Linked DNA regions of Homo sapiens. The protein of the gene in region 4 interacts with the protein of the main gene of each other region in a biochemical or structural test. Each region holds a gene or a part of one and is shown on either strand. Other genes may lie near its edges. The genes, in order: GLI1, NOTCH1, PRKCB and NUMB.

The links.
Region 1: the proteins of NUMB (region 4) and GLI1 form a complex in vitro, tested with the Homo sapiens proteins (one study listed by BioGRID).
Region 2: the proteins of NUMB (region 4) and NOTCH1 form a complex in vitro, tested with the Homo sapiens proteins (2 studies listed by BioGRID).
Region 3: of the proteins of NUMB (region 4) and PRKCB, one has a biochemical effect on the other in vitro, tested with the Homo sapiens proteins (one study listed by BioGRID).

The regions. Positions count from the first base shown.
Region 1 is NC_000012.12:57,468,386-57,473,344, forward strand, and holds the end of GLI1 (zinc finger protein GLI1), read left to right. Parts: intron 1-1,045; coding exon 1,046-1,313; intron 1,314-1,931; coding exon 1,932-3,676; 3' UTR 3,677-3,883; downstream 3,884-4,959. Other genes in the region: ARHGAP9 (rho GTPase-activating protein 9), read right to left, coding at 4,132-4,303. UniProt on the Homo sapiens protein: Acts as a transcriptional activator. Binds to the DNA consensus sequence 5'-GACCACCCA-3'. Regulates the transcription of specific genes during normal development.
Region 2 is NC_000009.12:136,497,549-136,503,023, forward strand, and holds part of NOTCH1 (neurogenic locus notch homolog protein 1 preproprotein), read right to left. Parts: intron 4,941-5,475; coding exon 4,724-4,940; intron 4,541-4,723; coding exon 4,453-4,540; intron 4,366-4,452; coding exon 4,200-4,365; intron 3,300-4,199; coding exon 3,004-3,299; intron 1,712-3,003; coding exon 1,564-1,711; intron 1,449-1,563; coding exon 1,351-1,448; intron 11-1,350; coding exon 1-10. UniProt on the Homo sapiens protein: Functions as a receptor for membrane-bound ligands Jagged-1 (JAG1), Jagged-2 (JAG2) and Delta-1 (DLL1) to regulate cell-fate determination.
Region 3 is NC_000016.10:24,089,848-24,095,322, reverse strand, and holds part of PRKCB (protein kinase C beta type), read right to left. Parts: intron 2,533-5,475; coding exon 2,376-2,532; intron 1,161-2,375; coding exon 1,026-1,160; intron 1-1,025. UniProt on the Homo sapiens protein: Calcium-activated, phospholipid- and diacylglycerol (DAG)-dependent serine/threonine-protein kinase involved in various cellular processes such as regulation of the B-cell receptor (BCR) signalosome, oxidative stress-induced apoptosis, androgen receptor-dependent transcription regulation, insulin signaling and endothelial cells proliferation.
Region 4 is NC_000014.9:73,447,334-73,452,808, forward strand, and holds part of NUMB (protein numb homolog), read right to left. Parts: intron 1-5,475. UniProt on the Homo sapiens protein: Regulates clathrin-mediated receptor endocytosis. Plays a role in the process of neurogenesis.

The DNA.
Region 1 (4,959 bases), on a different chromosome or scaffold from region 4:
CTAGAGGTTTTAGAATCTTTCTGTCTCACTCTCTCACTCTCTTTCTCTCTCTCCTTCCTTCCTTCTTTCCTTCTTTCCTTTCTTCCTTTCTTTCTTTCTCTCTCTCTCTCTTTCTCTCTTTCTTTCTGACAGAGTCTTGCTCTGTCGCCCAGGCTGGAGTGTAGTGGCATAATCATAGCTCACTGCAGCCTCAAACTTCTGGGCTCAAGTGATCACTACAGGCACACCCCATCATGCCTGGCTAATTTTTCTTCTTTTTAGAGATCGAGTCTTGCTATGTTGACCAGGCTGGTCTCAAACTCCTGGCCTTGAGCGATCCTCCCACCTCAGCTTCCCACAGTGCTGGGATGAGCCAATGCATCCAACCCAAACTCTTTCTTTTTTTTTCAGACGGAGTCTCGCTCTGTTGCCCAGGCTGGAGTGCAGTGGCATGATCTCGGCTCACTGCAACCTCCGCCTCCCAGGTTCACGCCATTCTGCCTCAGCCTCCTGAGTAGCTGGGACTACAGGCGCCTGCCACCACGCCGGGCTAATTTTTTTGTATTTTTAGTAGACATGGGGTTTCACTGTGTTAACCAGGGTGGTCTTGATCTCCTGACCTCGTGATCTGCCCACCTCGGCCTCCCAAAGTGCTGGGATTACAGGCGTGAGCCACTGCACCCGGCAACTCTTTCTTAAATAGCACTTAGTATATGTTCCAAGCCTTTTACATGTATAATTTCATGTACTCCTCACAGCAACTTCATGATAAAGGGACTCACTGTTCCCATTTTCAGTTGAAGAAACTCAGGCATAGAGAAATAGCCCAAGGTCATAGAACTAAGAGCAAGAATTTGAGTCCAGCCAGTCCGTGCTCCAGCCTAGGTTCTTCTCATCAAACGTCTCACATTCAGTTTGCTCCCCCATCTCTTACCTGCTTAGCCCTTTCTACACTTACAAGCTTCCTTGGAACCCCAGCAGTCACTGGGACACAGGCTTCAGCCACTCATCAAGTTGAAGGAGCTGTGGGGAAGGGTGTTGCCCTCAGACCTCATCTTCTCCACAGAAGCCACAGCCAAGCCCTGGGGCCCAGTCATCCTGCAGCAGTGACCACTCCCCGGCAGGGAGTGCAGCCAATACAGACAGTGGTGTGGAAATGACTGGCAATGCAGGGGGCAGCACTGAAGACCTCTCCAGCTTGGACGAGGGACCTTGCATTGCTGGCACTGGTCTGTCCACTCTTCGCCGCCTTGAGAACCTCAGGCTGGACCAGCTACATCAACTCCGGCCAATAGGGACCCGGGGTCTCAAACTGCCCAGCTTGTCCCACACCGGTGAGACCTGGGTGTGGGAGGTGTGGCTGGGGTGAGATCTGGACCTGCCCTGAGGTTGAGAGGAGGAAGTCACCCTTGAGGGCTGTCACACAGCACTTTTGTATAATTAGAAAATGGTGTCCTTCCTCAAGACACTTTCCATTTATCAGAAAATAGTTGTGATGTACAAACATGCAAAGGCTAGCCAGGCATGGTGGTGGGCACCTGTAATCCCAGCTACTCAGGAAGCTGAAGCAGGAGAATTGCTTGAACCTGGGAGGCAGAGGTTGCAGTGAGCTGAGATTGCGCCATTGCACTCCAACTTGAGCAACAAGAGCGAAACTCTGTTTCAAACAAAACAAAACAAAACAAACAAACAAACAAGTATGCAAAGGCTATGATGCGAATGCTGTTCCCTAGGATTGTGCAGCACACAACCTGCACAACTGTTCATAGCAACCCTGAATCCTTGGTAACCCAGAAACAGAATAGGCATGGGAGAAGTAGGAGACAGAACAGACTGGTTAGGGATAACGAGCTTACCCCTGAGAATCCAGGGCAAGGCTGTTGCATGGAGGAGGCAGGGTGAAATTTAGGAAGCTCCTTGACCATCCTACCTTTTCTCCCCATCACTTGCAGGTACCACTGTGTCCCGCCGCGTGGGCCCCCCAGTCTCTCTTGAACGCCGCAGCAGCAGCTCCAGCAGCATCAGCTCTGCCTATACTGTCAGCCGCCGCTCCTCCCTGGCCTCTCCTTTCCCCCCTGGCTCCCCACCAGAGAATGGAGCATCCTCCCTGCCTGGCCTTATGCCTGCCCAGCACTACCTGCTTCGGGCAAGATATGCTTCAGCCAGAGGGGGTGGTACTTCGCCCACTGCAGCATCCAGCCTGGATCGGATAGGTGGTCTTCCCATGCCTCCTTGGAGAAGCCGAGCCGAGTATCCAGGATACAACCCCAATGCAGGGGTCACCCGGAGGGCCAGTGACCCAGCCCAGGCTGCTGACCGTCCTGCTCCAGCTAGAGTCCAGAGGTTCAAGAGCCTGGGCTGTGTCCATACCCCACCCACTGTGGCAGGGGGAGGACAGAACTTTGATCCTTACCTCCCAACCTCTGTCTACTCACCACAGCCCCCCAGCATCACTGAGAATGCTGCCATGGATGCTAGAGGGCTACAGGAAGAGCCAGAAGTTGGGACCTCCATGGTGGGCAGTGGTCTGAACCCCTATATGGACTTCCCACCTACTGATACTCTGGGATATGGGGGACCTGAAGGGGCAGCAGCTGAGCCTTATGGAGCGAGGGGTCCAGGCTCTCTGCCTCTTGGGCCTGGTCCACCCACCAACTATGGCCCCAACCCCTGTCCCCAGCAGGCCTCATATCCTGACCCCACCCAAGAAACATGGGGTGAGTTCCCTTCCCACTCTGGGCTGTACCCAGGCCCCAAGGCTCTAGGTGGAACCTACAGCCAGTGTCCTCGACTTGAACATTATGGACAAGTGCAAGTCAAGCCAGAACAGGGGTGCCCAGTGGGGTCTGACTCCACAGGACTGGCACCCTGCCTCAATGCCCACCCCAGTGAGGGGCCCCCACATCCACAGCCTCTCTTTTCCCATTACCCCCAGCCCTCTCCTCCCCAATATCTCCAGTCAGGCCCCTATACCCAGCCACCCCCTGATTATCTTCCTTCAGAACCCAGGCCTTGCCTGGACTTTGATTCCCCCACCCATTCCACAGGGCAGCTCAAGGCTCAGCTTGTGTGTAATTATGTTCAATCTCAACAGGAGCTACTGTGGGAGGGTGGGGGCAGGGAAGATGCCCCCGCCCAGGAACCTTCCTACCAGAGTCCCAAGTTTCTGGGGGGTTCCCAGGTTAGCCCAAGCCGTGCTAAAGCTCCAGTGAACACATATGGACCTGGCTTTGGACCCAACTTGCCCAATCACAAGTCAGGTTCCTATCCCACCCCTTCACCATGCCATGAAAATTTTGTAGTGGGGGCAAATAGGGCTTCACATAGGGCAGCAGCACCACCTCGACTTCTGCCCCCATTGCCCACTTGCTATGGGCCTCTCAAAGTGGGAGGCACAAACCCCAGCTGTGGTCATCCTGAGGTGGGCAGGCTAGGAGGGGGTCCTGCCTTGTACCCTCCTCCCGAAGGACAGGTATGTAACCCCCTGGACTCTCTTGATCTTGACAACACTCAGCTGGACTTTGTGGCTATTCTGGATGAGCCCCAGGGGCTGAGTCCTCCTCCTTCCCATGATCAGCGGGGCAGCTCTGGACATACCCCACCTCCCTCTGGGCCCCCCAACATGGCTGTGGGCAACATGAGTGTCTTACTGAGATCCCTACCTGGGGAAACAGAATTCCTCAACTCTAGTGCCTAAAGAGTAGGGAATCTCATCCATCACAGATCGCATTTCCTAAGGGGTTTCTATCCTTCCAGAAAAATTGGGGGAGCTGCAGTCCCATGCACAAGATGCCCCAGGGATGGGAGGTATGGGCTGGGGGCTATGTATAGTCTGTATACGTTTTGAGGAGAAATTTGATAATGACACTGTTTCCTGATAATAAAGGAACTGCATCAGAAAAAATACCATGCCACTTTATGTATTATTATGTTGGGGAGGAATGATAACAGGGAACAAGAAGAGAAGCAGGGGTTAATCCACTCACTTTCCTCTTTAGAGAAGCTCCCTCACCCATCCCAACACCTCAAGTCACACTCATGAAGATAGAGACAGTCATTTGGGAGATTTAAAGGGATATCCTCAAAACAGAACACCAGCCTCTCACCACCAGAGATGACCGGAAATATGTTTTCTCTTCTTCCTTCCCTGCATCAGGGGAAGAGGCTGGTGAAGTTGGTGAGCATCAGCTGGACCAGCTGCCCTGGGTAGAGAGCATGGGCTGCTGGGTCAGATGTCTCCTGCTCTGGCCGAAACAGGGTTGGTCCAAACACAATTCCCAGGTTGTGGGGTGTCATGCGATTCTTATCTGAGTGTGCTATCACCCTGTAAGCAAAGGCCAAGGAAGGGGATATATGGCAGCAGCTTGCCACTTCATAGCAATCTAACTAACCCTTCAAAGTTCTGAGCAGGGAAGAGTTCACTCTGGGATTCCTCCACATGGTAACAAAAAAACCAAGGAGATACAAGGAGAATGGAGATGGACCAGTGGAGAAACCTTCAGGATACAACCTGAAGATATAACTGCCTCTTCCGACTTCAGGGGCTGCCCCAAGAGTTCTGCCTGCTCACAGTTTGGGAGTCTTTAATTCAAGTGGCCATCCTCTCTCAGAAGTCACTGCCCAGGCCCAGTTCAACCAAAGAAGCCATCAGCAATGTCCCAATGGGAGACAAAGAGGCAGAGGGAAGGGAGAAGTAAGATTTCCCTTATTCCTTTCACAGCATCTTGGTTCCATTTCCCCACTTGATGCTGACCTTTAGGTTTTGACCTAAAGTCTTTGACGGGCACGGTGTAATCCCAGCACTTTGGGAGGCTGAGGTGGGTAAATCACCTGAGGTCAGGAGTTCGAGACCAGCCTGGCCAACATGGTGAAACCCCGTCTCTACTAAAAATACAAAAATTAGCCAGGCGTGGTGGCGGGCACCTGTAATCCCAGTTACTCAGGAGGCTGAGGCAGGAGAATTACTTGAACCCGGGAGGC
Region 2 (5,475 bases), on a different chromosome or scaffold from region 4:
GTGTCTCCTCCTGGGGGATGAGGGCGGGGGCCGGTGAGGGGGGCCAGGCCAGGCGTGGGGACCCTCCCCAAGGTTCCATCACCAGAGGAAGCAGCAGTACAACCTCCTCCGCGGGGTGGGGGCAGGCAGGCTGCTCCTCAGGACCCCACCCCAGCGTCCTGCAACCACCTAGCCTGACTCTTGTTAAATGTTAAGGCTTTGATACATCTTCTGAAACCCACCCAGAGAGGGGATCTGTGCAGTCCTCTACCCTAGATCAGCGGGGCTCCACCTCTATGGGGGGGTCACAGACCCCACTGAAAATCTAACCAACTGCAGGCCCTCTTCCCTGCCCCCAATAAGGCACAAAAGGAAATTCCTGGAGCGGTTCAGAGGCACCGGCGAGGGCACCAGGGAGGGAGCTCGTCATCTGGACGGCCATCAAGCCACCCTGGTGGCCACCAAGCTCCTTCCTGGGGTCTCCTCTGTGCGGTGGACACGTCACAGGTCTGGGTGAGGCTGCTGTGTGGGAGTGGGAAGGGGCTTCCCAGGCCTTGATGCCCTCTGGGGCCCAGTCTCTGTGGGGCCATGCTGCCACGGACTGGGGAGCGCCTGGGCCAACATGCCCCGGTGCCCAGGCCCGCTGTGTGCCCTCACCCAGGAGGGAGAGACGCCTGAGCCTGACATGCCAAGGGGGCAGCAGGAGTTGGGGGCGGGGGTGGGGGTTCTGGCGGCAGGGAGGTGGGGGTGTCTGCACCTGTGCCCTGAGCACCCAGGGGAAACCAACAGCAGCTGCAGGGCCAGGAGCTGCAGGGCCAGGATGAGGGCTGGGGGTGGCTCCCCTTGGATATAGTCCTGAGACTTCTTCCTCTGAGCCTTGAGGTCCTTGGCCTTGGTGAACACACCAAGAGGCCCCGCCCCGCAGGGAGCTGCCGCCACGCGTGTTCTGGCTCAATCTGCACCACCTGCGTCACCACATTCCCATCCCCACCCCCGCCTGGTGACAGCTGGGGACAGAAGGTGAGGTCCAGGTGACGGTGACACAGCAGTGGCAGCAGCAGCGTTCCCCACGCCAGGCTGTGTGCCCCGCCATGACTGCCGCCCAGGAGGGTAGGGCTGGGTCTGAGGGGCGAGCCGCCGTGTCCTGACAGCTGGACCTGCACTTGGAAGGGCTCCATAAACGGGGGCTGAAGGAAGGCAGGAGCACTAACGAGGTGCCCGCATCATGCGGGTGGGGCCCACATGCGGGCCCAGCGACCCTCGAGACCCTGTGGGTCAGGCCCTTGTGTCCCTGCGCCCCGTGGGTTTGGCCCTCACTTCTCTGTGGATTCAGCCCTCACGTCTCCCCTGGCATCCCAGCCTCGCGCTCACCCTGTTGTTCTGCATATCTTTGTTAGCCCCGTTCTTCAGGAGCACAACTGCGGCATCCACATTGTTCACGGCGGCGGCCCAGTGCAGGGCGGACTTGCCTGCGTGAAAGAAGCAGATGGGGTAGGTTGGAGACCAGCTGGAGGCAACCCAGTCCCACCCGTCCCTGTGGCGGTCCCGCCCCACGACAGAGCAGCCGTGCCCCCGTGGGCTCACCCAGGTCATCTACGGCGTTGACGTCGGCGTGTGAGTTGATGAGGTCCTCCAGCATGCCCTCCACGGCCAGGCGGGCAGCCAGGATCAGTGGCGTCGTGCCATCATGCATGCGGGCATCCAGGTCTGTGGCTCGGTTCCGGATCAGGATCTGGGCAACAGGGAGAGGCTCAGGCGGGTGCTGGGCAGACGTACACCGATGCCTCCTGCCCAGAACGAACGCCTGGACGGGAAGCCCCACTGTCTTCCGGACACAGACGAGACCCTCCTGAGATCGGCACGGCCGGGCAAGACGAAACGCCATGGGGCTGCCCCTGAGGAGGGGCCCGGATGGGGGCAGGGGCTGTGCTGCCCACAGACAGGCCCCTTGGTGACAGTGGGATCCATCGTGACCACGTGTGGCCTCATTTAATCCTCACTGTGGTCCTAGCTGCCATGACCACCTACAAAACAGAGAGGTCAAGTCCCTGCCCCCAACGGCGGTTACAGCTGGCACTCAGGAAGCCGGGCTCACGGCCCTACAGCCGTCTCAGAACCGCCGAGCTAGTGTCCGGCTCTGCCCAGAGAGGGGGTGGGCAGCCCTTGTAATGCAGCCGGGTCTTGGCATCTGGCAGGAGGAATGGCCCCTGCTCACTGGCGGGTGCAAAAGGCAACTTGGCCTGATTCCTGCAAAGCACCTGGGAACTTCCACATCTGTGCAAAGAAGGCAGCTGAGAGAGGCACACACCAAACCCGCACGGGGCTCCCTTCCACGCTCTTTCTGCTCACCTACATTTATTTCTGCGAGATGACAATGTGTCACCTGAGCTAAGAAATCAGGAAATGAGAAGCTCTGTGGTAACTCCCCGGGCTGTGCCCATCTGAACCTGCTTGCTCCAGGGCCGCCTGGAGCCTGGGGACTCGCAGCAGGGGTGACTGCAAAGGCAGCCCCTGCCAGGGACACTCCCTGGAGACCCAGGCATCCAAATCCCTAAATCCATTCTTGCCACGAGCTCACCGGCAAGCTGAGCCCTAGGTCTGCAGGCACCGAGCGGCAGCCTCTAAACCCTGCTTCTCACTGCCACAGGCTACGCCGGCAGCCAAGGTTGAGGGAGGGGCGGGGCTGCGAGGGGCTGCAGCAGTGGAACCTGGACCTTGAGCAAGGCCCACAACCCTGATGGAGCCTGTTTTGCTGGGGGTGGGGAGGTGCTGCCTCACTCAGCAGATCCCCCAGGCCTCCTGCCAGACCCGCCTCTGCCTGACTTCCCTGGAGAACACAGATGGGCCCGACGCCCTCCCCCTCGCACCTCGCTGACTGCGAAGGTCCCAGGTGGAGGCACCAGTTGTCCCGGACTCAGCTGTGCTCGGGGTCAGGCTCCCAGGGCCACGTAAGCCTGGCCACTGCCCCAGACCACCAGGCGGCCCTGAGGAGGGCAGGTGGGCACACAGGCAGCCACTGCCTACCTGGAAGACACCTTGTGCGTCGGCAGACACAGCCGCATGCAGCGGGGTGCGGCCCATGTTGTCCTGGATGTTGGCATCTGCGCTGGCCTCCAGCAGGCGCTTGGCGGCATCAGAGCGTGAGTAGCGGGCGGCCAGGTGCAAGGCGGTCTCGCCCGTGCGGTCTGTCTGGTTGTGCAGGCTGGCGCCCTGGTAGATGAAGTCGGAGATGACGGCCGGCGCGTCCTCCTCTTCCTCGCTGTTGCCCGTCTCCAGGCCGCCCCCGCTGCAGGAGGCGATCATGAGCGGGGTGAAGCCATCTGCAGAGGCAGAGACGGGTGCTCAGTCTGGAGGGCCGGTCCCCAGCTGCAGCCCAGGGGGAGGGGGGCAGCAGCCCCAAGCTCAAGGGGCCACGGTGTGGATGCACCACCCAGCACTTGGTGGCCCCGTGCACACAGCCACCAAGGGGCAGCTGAAGTCCGCCTGGGCTGCTCAGTGGACAGAGCCGAATCCAGCTTAAACTCCTGGCGGGCAACTGCTTCCTGACCTGCCCAAGACCTGGCACCCAAAATCCACCCAGGAAAAAGAGGACCCCAGAAGCATGCAGTTAGAAAATTAATGCTTCAGCAGGATGCGGAGGCTCACGCTGTCATCCTAGCACTGGGGGAGGCCGAGGTGGGCGGATCACCTGAGGTCAGGAGTTCGAGACCAGCCTGGCCAACATGGTGAAACCCCATCGCTGCTAAAAATACAAAAATTAGCCAGGTGTGGTGGCAGGCGCCTGTAGTCCCAGCTACTGGGGAGGCTGAGGCAGGAGAATTGCTTGAACCCGAGAGGTGGAGGTTGCAGGGAGCCGAGATCGTGCCACTGCACTCCAGCCTGGGTGACGGAGCGAGACTCCATCTCAAAAACAAAAAAAAAAGAAAAAAAAAAAGAAAAAGAAAATCAACGCTTTCCATGTCTCAAGAAGGTTTCAGAAAAGAGTAATTTACAGGGACAGAGTGGCCCTGCGGTATCACCCCAGGAAGGGGTTGGTGGAAGAACAGGAGGACTCCAGGACCCCCCCACGTCTACTCTGAATGGGAAACACCCCAAGGATGAAAGCTCTCACCCCCAATTCTAAGTTTCCAGAGTATCAACTGTACCCCAGCCTCGGGGCTTAGGGGAGAGAGGCAGGTGGGCCACGGGGCTAGGGAAGCCCTGGCTGCTGGCACCCTTACCAGGCCCGCGGACATTGACGTCCATGCAGTCGGCGTCAACCTCACCCTGGGGCGGTGTGGGGGCCATGGCAGACATGCGCAGGTCAGCGGCATCCAGGTGCTGCTGAGTCCACTGCCGGTGGTCTGTCTGGTCGTCCAGGTCAGGCAGAACCACGGGCTCCTCGAACTACATAGAGGGAGTGAGCAGAGCCTGTCAGGGCAGCCCGGCAGCAGGTGCCCGGGAGCCCAGGAGCCCGGGAGCCTCGCGACTCACCCGGAACTTCTTGGTCTCCAGGTCCTCGTCCCCCCACTCATTCTGGTTGTCGTCCATGAGGGCACCGTCTGAAGCGTTCTTCAGGGGCCTGGGGGGTGAGGGGTCGAGAAGTGAGGCTGAGCGAGCTCCCTAGGAAGCCCCCAGAGACCCCTGGCCCGGGCCTGGCGTGGGAGGTGGGCCCTGGGTCGGGAGGGGCAGACTCCCGGTGAGGATGCTCGGCCAGGTCCCACCTCCCACCGGGGACCCAGAAGCAGGGGCGGCGTCCGCTCACTTGAGGCCCACGGAGTCCTCGCCGAGGGGCTCCCGCCGCTTCTTCTTGCTGGCCTCAGACACTTTGAAGCCCTCAGGGAACCAGAGCTGGCCATGCTGCCGCCGGCGCTTGCGGGACAGCAGCACCCCGCAGCCCACGAAGAACAGAAGCACAAAGGCGGCCGCCGCCACGTACATGAAGTGCAGCTGCGCCGGCGGGGGCGGCTCCACGGTCTCACCTGCGGGCACGGGGGCCAGGGGCAGGTGCCCGGACATCAGGCAGCGGCTACGCAGCAGGCTGGTGGCCGGGGGGCGGCGGACTGGCTCCGCGTCCGGGCGCCTCCTCACCCACTCTCCTCCATCCCGCCCTCCAAAATAAGGTCATTTTCTACGCGATTAATCAGAATTGCAAACTATCGCTAAATTCTCTCCTGCACCAGCCGACTCTATCTGGAGACGGCTTTTACTTTTTTCTCCTTTAAGGAAGGAGGATTAGTCAACTTCAAATCGCTGCACTCGCACTGAGCTGTTAAGACAAAGGATTTAGAGGGATTTTCAAGATACAAACTTCAACACTTCACATGACACCGATCAATTCTTCTCTCTCTCTCTTTTTTTTTCTTTAAAAAAAGCCGTAATGATTTTGAAATAATACCCAACAAAGAAAATTCAGGAGGAAAGGGTGGGGAGAGAAGCAGGCACCCACTTTCCCGTGGCTGGACTCGTTCCCAGGTGGCTCCACCGGCAGCTGTGACCGCCGCAGGTGGGGGCGGA
Region 3 (5,475 bases), on a different chromosome or scaffold from region 4:
CTTGCCAAACTATCTTTGAAAAGCCCTAGCTTCCAAATTTTCAGGGAGGCTGATTTGAGTCATAAAAAAACTCTGTTCTCCCATTTAGCTGGCTCTATGTGTGTAAAACTCTTTCCCTATTGCAATTCTCCCATCTTGATAAATCGGCTCTGTCTGGGCAGCAGGCACAAAGAAGCCACTGGGCAGTTACAGTCTCATCATGTAGTTTAGTAAATTGGCCCAGATGTAATAAAATAGGGAGTGGTGAGGACGGTGACAAATAGAAAATCCATGTCCTGTCTAAAGGGGGCATTAACTATTCAACTGTTCTCAATTGTTGCCTTCTAGCCCCAGATTTTTAAAATACTAGAACTAATTCCCTCCCTCCCTCCTTCTGTCCCTCCTTCCCTTCCTCCCTTCCTTCCTTCCTGCTTTCCGTCTTTCTTTCTTCTTTCTTTCTTCTTCCTTTCCCTTTCCCTTTTTCTTCCTTTCCTTCCTTCCTTCCTTCCTTCCTTCCTTCCTTCCTTCCTTCCTCCCTCCCTTCCTTCATTCCTTCTCTCTCTCTCTCTTTCTTTTTTATCACTCTGTCACCCAGGCTGGAGTGCAGTGGCTCAATCTCTGACCACCTTGCTCACTGCAACCTCTGCCTCCAGGGTTCAAGTGATCCTCCCATCTCAGCCTCCTGAGTAGCTGGAACTACAGGCACACACCACCATGCCCAGCTAATTTTTCATGTTTTTGATAGAGATGGGGTTTCACCATGTTGCCCAGACTGGTCTTAAACTCCTGAGCTCAAGTGATCTACCTGCCTCGGCCTCCCAGAGTGCTGGGATGACAGGTGTCAGACACGAGGCCTGGCCTCTTTCTTTTTTGTTTTTAGTACAAGGACCAAACAAAACATATCTGCAAGGCAGATCCAATCAACCAGACTTCACTTTGGGACTCTGTTTTAGTATTTCAATTTTTGGAGAAAAAGGAAAACATACTTGACCCCGCGTTTGATGGAGCAAGCTGTATGGTAGCTTTCAAGGCAAAATCTTACTTACCAGCCATCAACACTGGCTTTCTGAAGTTCAGAAATCCCAAAGGACAAAGATCCCATGAAGTCATTCCTGCTGGTCAAATCCCAATCCCAAATCTCTACTGACAGTCTTCTGTCTTTGTCCGATTCTTTCAGCTGACTGCATAGAGAAAAAGAAAAGACATCAGTGGAGGTTGTAGTAATTTCTCAAGCAGAATAAATGTACAAGAGGACAAGACCTGGAGGTAGAAAGTTTTAAAGATTACAAGCTGCTGAAAGAAACATATTCAGTTTCCATCCCAGGCTAGCTCTCCAGGGAGTGAGAGCTTTTTCTGTTTGACAGCCTGTGGCTTAAACAGGCAGAGGTCTTAGACTGGCTATGACAAGAACAGTTCTAACTACTTTTGTTATCTTATGTCTTAATAGGGTTCAGGATATTCAGGAATTCCTATTGCCTATAAGAAATACAGATATCAATTGCATAATTGGGTGTGTACATGTGTATATCTGCACACAGGTGGGTTGAGAATGAGGCTGAGGAAATGCATGGAGAAAAATCCTGGGGAAATTGTCTGTTCTGAGACATGTCCTTGACTGAGGCTGAGAAGGGGCCCAGCTTTGCCCTGAGAGAGGGAAGAGGAGACAGGACAAGGAACTGTGCTTCTAGCTGGTGGCTAAAAAAGTATGACCGCTAAAGTCAGACTGCCAGAAGCTGAATCCCACTCCACCCCATATTTGCTATGGGACTTTGGGCATACTCTTTAACCTCTATAAGCCCTATTGCTACATTGGGAATAAAATGAGCCGATGAAGTCGGATCGCTTAACCCAGTGTTTGTCACACATCATATATGCTCAGTGAATTGGCTGTTATAACCAACTCCTGATGCCTAGATGTACAAGAAAGAGACTCCCAGATTCTTGGAGCCCTGGCCAGGGAAGACCCTCAAGGGAGGCTGGTGGAGATGTCCCAGAAGGCTGCAGGCCAAGCATCATCCATAAACCCAACTCTAGAGAGGCTGTCACCACACCCTGTAGGTTATGTTCCCCTATTTGCTGAGCCCCATCATTTCTCCCACAACTTGCCTTCACTTAGCAACACATCACACCATTTCCTGTCCTACCCACTCCCCCACACCACAGGCATTCTCATCTCTATTAAAAAAATAGCTCTAATTTTTTTTCTTGGCTCACAATACAAAATTGCAGATGGAAAAGAAGGGAGGGAAAGATAGGAGTGAGGGATGGAGAAGACAGAAAAGGAGGGAGGTAGGGAAGGAAGGAAACAGGAGCTAAGGGAGGAGGAACTCCCTGATTTCAGGTGGCACATAACCCAACCTCCACCACCCATGCTCACTGCAGTCATTTCCACTTACAATCTAAATGTCTCATTCCACTCAGGGTTGAGGGAGCATTTGATGGTTTTGGTCTTCTGTTTGCTCTCACTTTTGGGATCGGGAATCAGTTTCAGTTTTACGTAGGGATCTGACAGGCCATTGGGGTCCATAGGTACAAGGTTTTTAGCATCTCTTACTGAAAAAGAAAAAGCAGTTTTTGCATTAATACTGTCCAACATGTTTAAGCACCAAGCAGTGACAGCTGCAGAACTTGTGGAAGGTTCTTTGGCATCACACTTGTTTAGTGAGAAATTTAATTTTATTAACATCCATAGCTGAAGCAGTGCACAAAATGAGATGGGCTGATAAGATGTCAACTCTGGTCTGTGTTGGTTAAAAATGGATTTCTGACTTTTACACTGCTCTTCCCATACCAAGATTAACTGTAAGTTTTCTAAGCTTATTTTCCACAAAGCCCACAGGAAAGGCTGGCTTCTTTCATTTAGCATAACGTTTTCAAAGTTCACCACATTATAGCATGTATCAGCACTTCATTTTTTTGCATGACTGAATAATATTCCATTGTATAGATATCCCACATTTTGTTTATCCATTCAGCAGTTGATGCATAGTTGGGTTGTTTCCACTTTTTGGCTGTTGTGAATACTGCTGCTATGAACATTTGTGTACCCCAACACAAAAGGTCACATATTGTATGATTCCATTTACATGAAACATCCCAAACAGGTAAATCCATAGAGACAGAAAGTAGACTACTATTAATAGTTGCCAGAGGCTGGAGGGAAAGGGAAATGGGGAGTGACTGCTTAATGAGTACAGGGTTTCTTTTAGAGGTGATGAAAATTTCTGAGAACTAGATAGAGATGATGGTTGTCCAACACTGTGAATATTCTATAAATGTCACTGAATTGTACGTTTAAAAACAGTTAATGGTTAATTTTATGTTACGTTAATTTTACCTCCATTCAAAAAGAAAAAGCTAAAGAAAGGAAGAATTACCCTCTAAACCAAGGTACACCTATTATCCATGTATCACCCATAACCAGCACCCAGACAGCCCATAGAGAGAAGGCTGGAACAATGTCAGCAGCATTAGAGCTCAGCTCCACCCTGACTCCAGAACACCCAGGTAAAGAGGCTATAAGGCTAACATGGTGAAACCCTGTCTCTACTAACAATACAAAAAAATTAGCCAGGCATGGTGGCAGGTGCCTGTGGTCCCACCTACTTGGGAGGCCCAGGCAGGAGAATGGCATGAACCCAGGAGGCAGAGCTTGCAGTGAGCCAAGATCATGCCACTGCACTCCAGCCTGGGCGACAGAGTGAGACTCCGTCAAAAAAAAAAGATGAACTTACAGGAGAAAAGGAGGCAGGGAATCAGCAGTGAAGATGCAACTGGCTATAGAAAGGATGAGGGAGACTAAATCATCAGCTTGGAGAAACAGGAAGTAGTTAATTAGGAATCAATTCAGAAACCAGTAATGCAGGTAGTCAATGGAAGCAGACTAGAAAATGAGAATTGCACAGCTCTTAAGGATACAATGTCAATCATCTCACTTACAGTAGAACAATCCACAGTAATACATTCAATCCAAATCGACTCTAACTATCTGCTAAAAGGTGAATACATAATGACTCCTATCAGGAATGCAAAGATGGTTCAATCTTAGGAAATCTATTTTCAATATATTCATCATATTTATAGATCAAAGAAGAAAACCATAAGATCATTGTAGTTATCTAGAAACAGCAGAGAATTTTAACAGGATAAAGGCTATCTGAAATAACAGCACCATGGTTCATGATAAATGCAATTCCATTAAAGTAAGGAATAAGACAAAGATATCCATTACCATAGCCATTATTTAATACTTTTTTTTCTCGTGTTCCATAAGTGCAGTAAGAAATAAAGAGTTACCCTCTAAACCAAGATGCACCTATTATCCATGTATCACCCATAACCTGCACCCAGACAGCCCATAGGGAAAAGGCTGGAAAAATATCCACAGCATAAATAAAACCAGAAATTTTGTAAACTCAAGATAACAAGAAAAACAGATTAGAAGAAAGAATATTGGAAAGTAGGAGAGAAAGCACCCCCTCATTTCCTGCAACCTTTGCTCACCCCCAATCATAGTTATCTCCTACCATGGTCACGCTCTGGAGCCTATTATCCCAGAAATTATACCACTTTCTCAATCTCAGTTTCAAGTACCCTACTATCTTACACCAATTTCTATTTTTCCAATTCATTAGTTCTATTATTCTACTGCAATAAATCTTCCCCTATTCGTCAGTCCATTCTCCACCAATCAGTCCCTCGAACCCAACACATTCTCTTGATCTCCCTATTCCCTCTTGCTTTTACTCCATTCATATCCAGATTCAATTTTATGGTGCATTTTAGCTACTCCTTTGGAAAGACCCTCAACTCCCTTGCCCCTCTTTCTTTTTATTTTACTTGTCTCACATGACCCCAGCCCTACTTAAATTCAAATACCTGTCCTTTCTTACTCTGTCCTTTTCCTACACTCAAACAGCTGACCATTGCTGGAAAATAAATAAGACTGACTTCCCTAAAATGATACAGCTAGTAAGGGGTTGAGACCGAATAAATGAGATGGGAGAAGCATTGAATCGGCTACCAGGATCAAGCTGTAACTTATTCTGTGCTGACATTTTTTCTGCACTCCAGCAACATGGCAGTGTCTTCTATTTTTCCACAGGCTGAATTCATCTCCCATCTCAGCTTGCAAGCTGCATCTCATTTTTACACCAAAAGCAAGATGTTGACCTTGATCAGTTAAGTTCAACAAGCAAGTCCCTACTAAGTGCTAAGCATTCTGCTAGGCCCTGGGGATATAGGGGACAAAATAAAATGTTAATCTTGTCCCCAAGACAGACCATATAGTGTCATGGACACAGGGCTATAAGATCCCAGGGTCCGCATCTTACCAAGCAGTTACTTCACACATATGAACCTCAATTTCTTGATCAATAAAATAGGTTGTTACAAGAGTAAAATTGGATAAAGAATATACATGTTTAGCACAGAACCTGGAACTTAAAAAATACTCAATAAATGTTAACTGCTATATATTACTGCTATTTCATTATT
Region 4 (5,475 bases):
AAAAATTAGCTGGGCGTGGTGGCAGGTGCCTGTAATCCCAGCTACTCAGGCGGCTGAGGCAGAAGAGTCACTTGAACCCAAGAGGTGGAGGTTGCCATGAGCCGAGATCACGCCATTGCGCTCCAGCCCAGGCGACAGTGCAAGACTCCATCTCAAAAAATAAATAAATATATATAAAATTAGTCTAGAGTATTACAGAAAGATACTAAGAAATGAACAATAGGCTGAGCACAGTGTCTGACACTTATAATCCCAGCACTTTGGGAGACTGAGGCAGGAGGATCACTAAAAAGGAAAAAAAAACAAACAAACCTGCGCAACATAGAATGACCTCATCTCTACAAAAAAAAAAAGAAAAGAAAAAATAAAGAACAACATTTGATGTAACATGTTAACATTTTTATAAATGACCAGTCATGTAAATGGACATTTGCAGTTCATTTTCTTGCCGATTTTTTTTTTTTTTTGAGATGGAGGCTGACTCTGTCACCCAGGCTGGAGTGCAGTGGCACAATCATGGCTCACTACAATGCCCCCTACCCTACCCCCAACCCTCGGGTTCAAGCGATTCTCCCACCTCAGCCTCCCTAGTAGCTGGGACAACAGGCATGCACCACCACACCCAGCTACTTTTTTGTATTTTTAGTAAAGACTGGGTTTTACCACGTTGGCCAGGCTGGTCTCGAACTCTGAGCTCAAGTGATTCGCCTGCCTCGGCCTCCCAAACTGCTGGGATTACAGGCATGAGCCACCGCATCTGGCCTCTAATATTTTCAATATAGTATTTGGGACTGCTTTCCTTGCAAGAGTTAAGGAAGACTTACTTGGCTACTACAGGAAATATCTTTCCTTCATACCACCAATGCTAGATAATTTTCAAAAACAAGAATGAATCAACTCTTTAAAATAATAATTCAAAATTATGTTCACTGATGAGATTTGAAGTCTATTACATCATGAATGTGATGGAAATTGTACACCTTTCATCAGAGACAATAAATAATATAGCTTTTAACAGCTTTATTTTTTTTAATTTATAATAGAGATAGGGTCTTGCTACGTTGCCCAGGCTTTTATCAAAACCCTAGGCTCCAGCAATTCTCCCTCCTTGGCTCCCAAAGTGCTGGGATTAAAGGCATGAGCCACCACACCAGGCCAGATTTTAACAGCTTTCTACAAATACAGATTTTTCTTTCATTTGACCAAATCCTTATCTAAGGAAGATACAGGGCTTAAATTCTGAAATAAAAACTATTTCTACTTGAATTGCGAAGATAAATATATTAACTCCAGGGAAAAATAAGCTGGTTCTAACTGGCATTTAGAACTAATTTAAAATCATTAACAATATCAGTAAATAAAATAATTCAATAAAAGCAATGATTTTAATAACAAAATCAGTAAATAATATAATGCTCAATTGTTTTTTTCTAGTAGTAGGATTAATGGTTTCCACTGTTGTCAAAAACTCACATGTATTTGGAAGAGGACCAGGTACAGTCACATCTTGGTATCTGAGGGGGACTCGATCCAGGACCCCATGGATACCAAAATCTGCAGATATCCCAGTTCCTTATGTATAATGGCATAGTACAGTCGGTCCTCTGTATCCATGGGTCCCACACAGGAGGATTCAACCAATCTTGCATCAAATATATTCGGAAAAAAAAATGGATGGTTGTAATGAACATGTACCTACTTTTCTTTCTTGTCATTATACCCTAAACAATACAGTATAACTATGTACATAACATTTATATCATATTAGGTTGGTGTAAAAGTAATTGTGTTTTTGCTATTACTTTTAATGGCAAAAGCTGTAATTACTTTTGCACCAACCTAATATTAAGTATTATAATTAATCTAGAGAAATAATTCAAAGTATACGGGAGAATGTGTGCAGGTTATATGTAAATACTACACCATCTTATATAAGTGACCTGTGCATCTATGGATTTTGGTATATTGGGGTCCTGGAATCAATCCCCCACTGATACCTGTATTTGCATATAACCTGCACACATTCTCCCATATATGTTATATAATCTCTAGATTACTTATTAATATAATACCTAATACAATGTAAAAGCTATGTAAATACTTATACTGTATTTATTCGTATTATTTGTATTGTTTTATTTTTTATTGGGTTTTCTTTCCAAATATTTTCTATCAACTGCTGGTTGAATCCAAGGATGCAGAATACACAGATAAGGGCTGACTATAATATGATAGATAAACAGCCTGTGACCACACAACAAAATATTAGCTTCATTTACCCCATGTTTCAGTCTAATACACCAAAATAAACCAACCACAAAAACAAACTGAAGTAGTAAATGTTTAAAATATATGTAATGTTTTGGTGTTTGTTTTTTGATACAGAGTCACACTCTGTCGCCCAGGCTGGAGTGCAGTGGCTCGGCTCACTGCAACCTCTGCCTCCCAAGTTCAAGCAATTCTCCTGCCTCAGCCTCCTGAGTAGCTGGGATTACAGGCATGCACCACTACTCCCAGCTAATTTTTGTATTTTTAGTAGACACGGGCTTTCGCCATGTTGGCCAGGCTGGTCTCGAACTCCTGACCTCAGGTGATCCGCCCACTTTGGCCTCCCAAAGTGCTGGGATTACAGATGTGAGCCACCGCGCCCAGCCTTAAAATACCTGTAATGTTTTAAAGTCGACTCTGGTTTTCCTAGCTGCCACAATGCTTACAATAACAGTATCTGGAATATTAGCCCATCCTAAAAGAGAAGTCTATAATAGATCTAATGTGATAATTATTAATAATTAACAATTACAATTTGTTAAGTGCCCACTATGGGCAAAATGCTATACACTACACAAAATGCTTTTCATTTAATTCTCACCATCACCCTGATGTGGAGGATAGCATAAGCTCCATTTTATGGATGACGAAACTGAATCTAAAAGAAGTTTAATAAACTGCTCAATTAGTAAATTAACGATAAAGTCAAGATTCAAAATCATGGTCACACAATTATAATGAATTTTGTCCATTCTGTCATGCTGCCTCTGGACATAAATGATGCTCTTTCAATTTCATAACATGGCAGTCACAAATATATTTCTGTCATCAGCAGGCTATTCTATGGTTCTGTGAGATACTAGTTTGGAGGAAAAAAAAGTTTTATCTTGATTAAAGAATACTGGGAGCTAGGCTGGGCGCAGTGGCTCACGCCTGTAATCCCAACACTTTGGGAGGCCAAGGCAGGTGGATTACTTGAGGTCAGGAGTTTGAGATCAGCCTGGCCAATATGGCGGAACCCTGTTTCTACTAAAAATACAAAAATTAGCCGGGCGTGGTGGCACACGCCTGTAATCCCAGCTACTCGGAAGGCAGGATAATCGCTTGAACCTGATAGGCGGAGGTTGCAGTGAGCCGAGATCGTGCCACAGCACTCCAGCCTGGAAGACAGAGCGAGACCCCATCTTAAAAAAAAAAACAAAACAGAATACTGGGAGTTAAAACTTCTTATAACAAAGTCGCTTATATTAAAAGAAATTAAGTAAATAAACCAAACGCAGTGACTCACGCCTGTAATCCCAGCACTTTGGGAGGCCGAGGCAGGAGGATCACTTGAGGCCAGGAGTTCAAGACTAGCCTGAGCAACACGGTGAAATCCCGTCTCTACTAAAAATACAAAAAAGTTAGCTGGGCATGCTAGTTGGCACCTGTAATCCCAGCTACTTGAGAGGCTGAGGCAGGAGAATTGCTTGAACCCAGGAGGCGGAGGTTGCAGTAAGCCAAGATTGCACCATTGCACTCTATCCTGGGCGACAGAGCAGGACTCTGTCTCAAAAAAAAAAAAAAAAAAAAACAAAAAACAAATCTACACTTCGGGAGGCTGAGGCAGGCAGATCACGAGGTCAGGAGTTCAATACCAGCCTGGCCAATATGGTGAAACCCCATCTCTACTAAAAATACAAAAAACTAGCCAGGTGTGGTGGCGTGTGCCTGTAGTCCCAGCTATTCGGGAGGCTAAAGCAGGAGAATTACTTGAACCCACAAGGCGGAGGTTGCAGTGAGCCAAGATTGAGCCACTGCACTCCAGCCTGGGCAACAGAGGAGACACCGTCTAAAAAAAAAAAAAAAAAACCTACAACAAAAATTAGCCAGGCATAGTGGCATGCCCCTGTAGTCCCAGCTACTCGGTAGCCTGACGCAGGACAATTGCTTGAACCTGGGAGGTGGAGATTTCAGTGAGCCGAGATTGTGCCACTGCACTCCAGCCTGGGCATCTTTAAATAAAATAAATTAAGTAAATAAACCTTCACAAATTATCTACATGATAAAATCAAAATGTACCTGAGATGTACATATGCACAAGTGACTAGACGAAAGTATCACTATTACTTTTCCAAAGTCAAAGGTAACCAAGGCCAATCTTAAATAAAGTTACAAATTTAGCTGATTTCTGTGTCCCTGGTTGCCCCAGCTTTGCCTTTATTCAGAGCTAAGCAGTATTCTACAGTTTTTCCCTCTTCTTCCCTAATTAAACTAGAAATGTTCCAAATTAACTATAATTCACCTTAATATAATCAAGTTACCATAATTAAGATTTTGCTGTCCTACTCAGGTAATTGAAGACTTTGATCTTGGTTAAAAGAACGTAAGATAGCCTGAGCACGGTAGCTCATGCCTGTAATCCCAACACTTTGGGAGGACTGCCTGAGTTTAGGAGTTTAACAAGACCCTGTCTCTACCCCCCAAAAAAAAAACTGGCCAGGCGTGGTGGCTCACGCCTGGAATCCCAGAACTTTGGGAGGCCAGGGTGGATGGATCACCTGAGACCAGGAGTTCAAGACCAGCCTGACCAAAATGGTGAAACCTCATCTCTACTAAAAATGCAAAAATTAGCGGGGTGTGGTAGTGCACACCTGTAATCCCAGCTACTAGGGAGGATGAGGCAGGAGAATCACCTGAACCCAGGAAGTGGAGGTTGCGGTGAGCTAAAATTGTGCCATTGTACTCCAGCCTGGGCAACGAGAACGAAACTCTGTCTCAAAAACAAAACAAAACAAAACAAAACTGGGCAGCCTGTAGTCCCAGCAACTGGAGAGGCTGAGGCAGAAGGATCACCTGAGCCCAGAATGTTGAGGCTGCAGTGAGCCGAGATCATGCCACTGCATACTCCCTCCACGTCAAAAGAGCAAGACACCGTCTCAAAAAAAAGGAACGTAACTTATCAGCAAACAAGTGGGGAGAAACAGGGTTTTCGTGGGTAGAGAGGGGGAAGTCACTGAACGTTAATTACTAATATAGCAACTCCTTGGTTAATGCATTTAAGATGACTGGGGGTCTCTTCCTAATCCCATACTCCACTGGAGAGGACAAGTGGGAAAGGTTGGTCTAGTTAAGGTTGCTGGGGACCTCCCAAGAGCTGCAGAAGCAGAGATAAGAAGAGCCTTCTTCTAAATCCACATGGTCCTTCCAAGGCTCTCATCCTCTAGG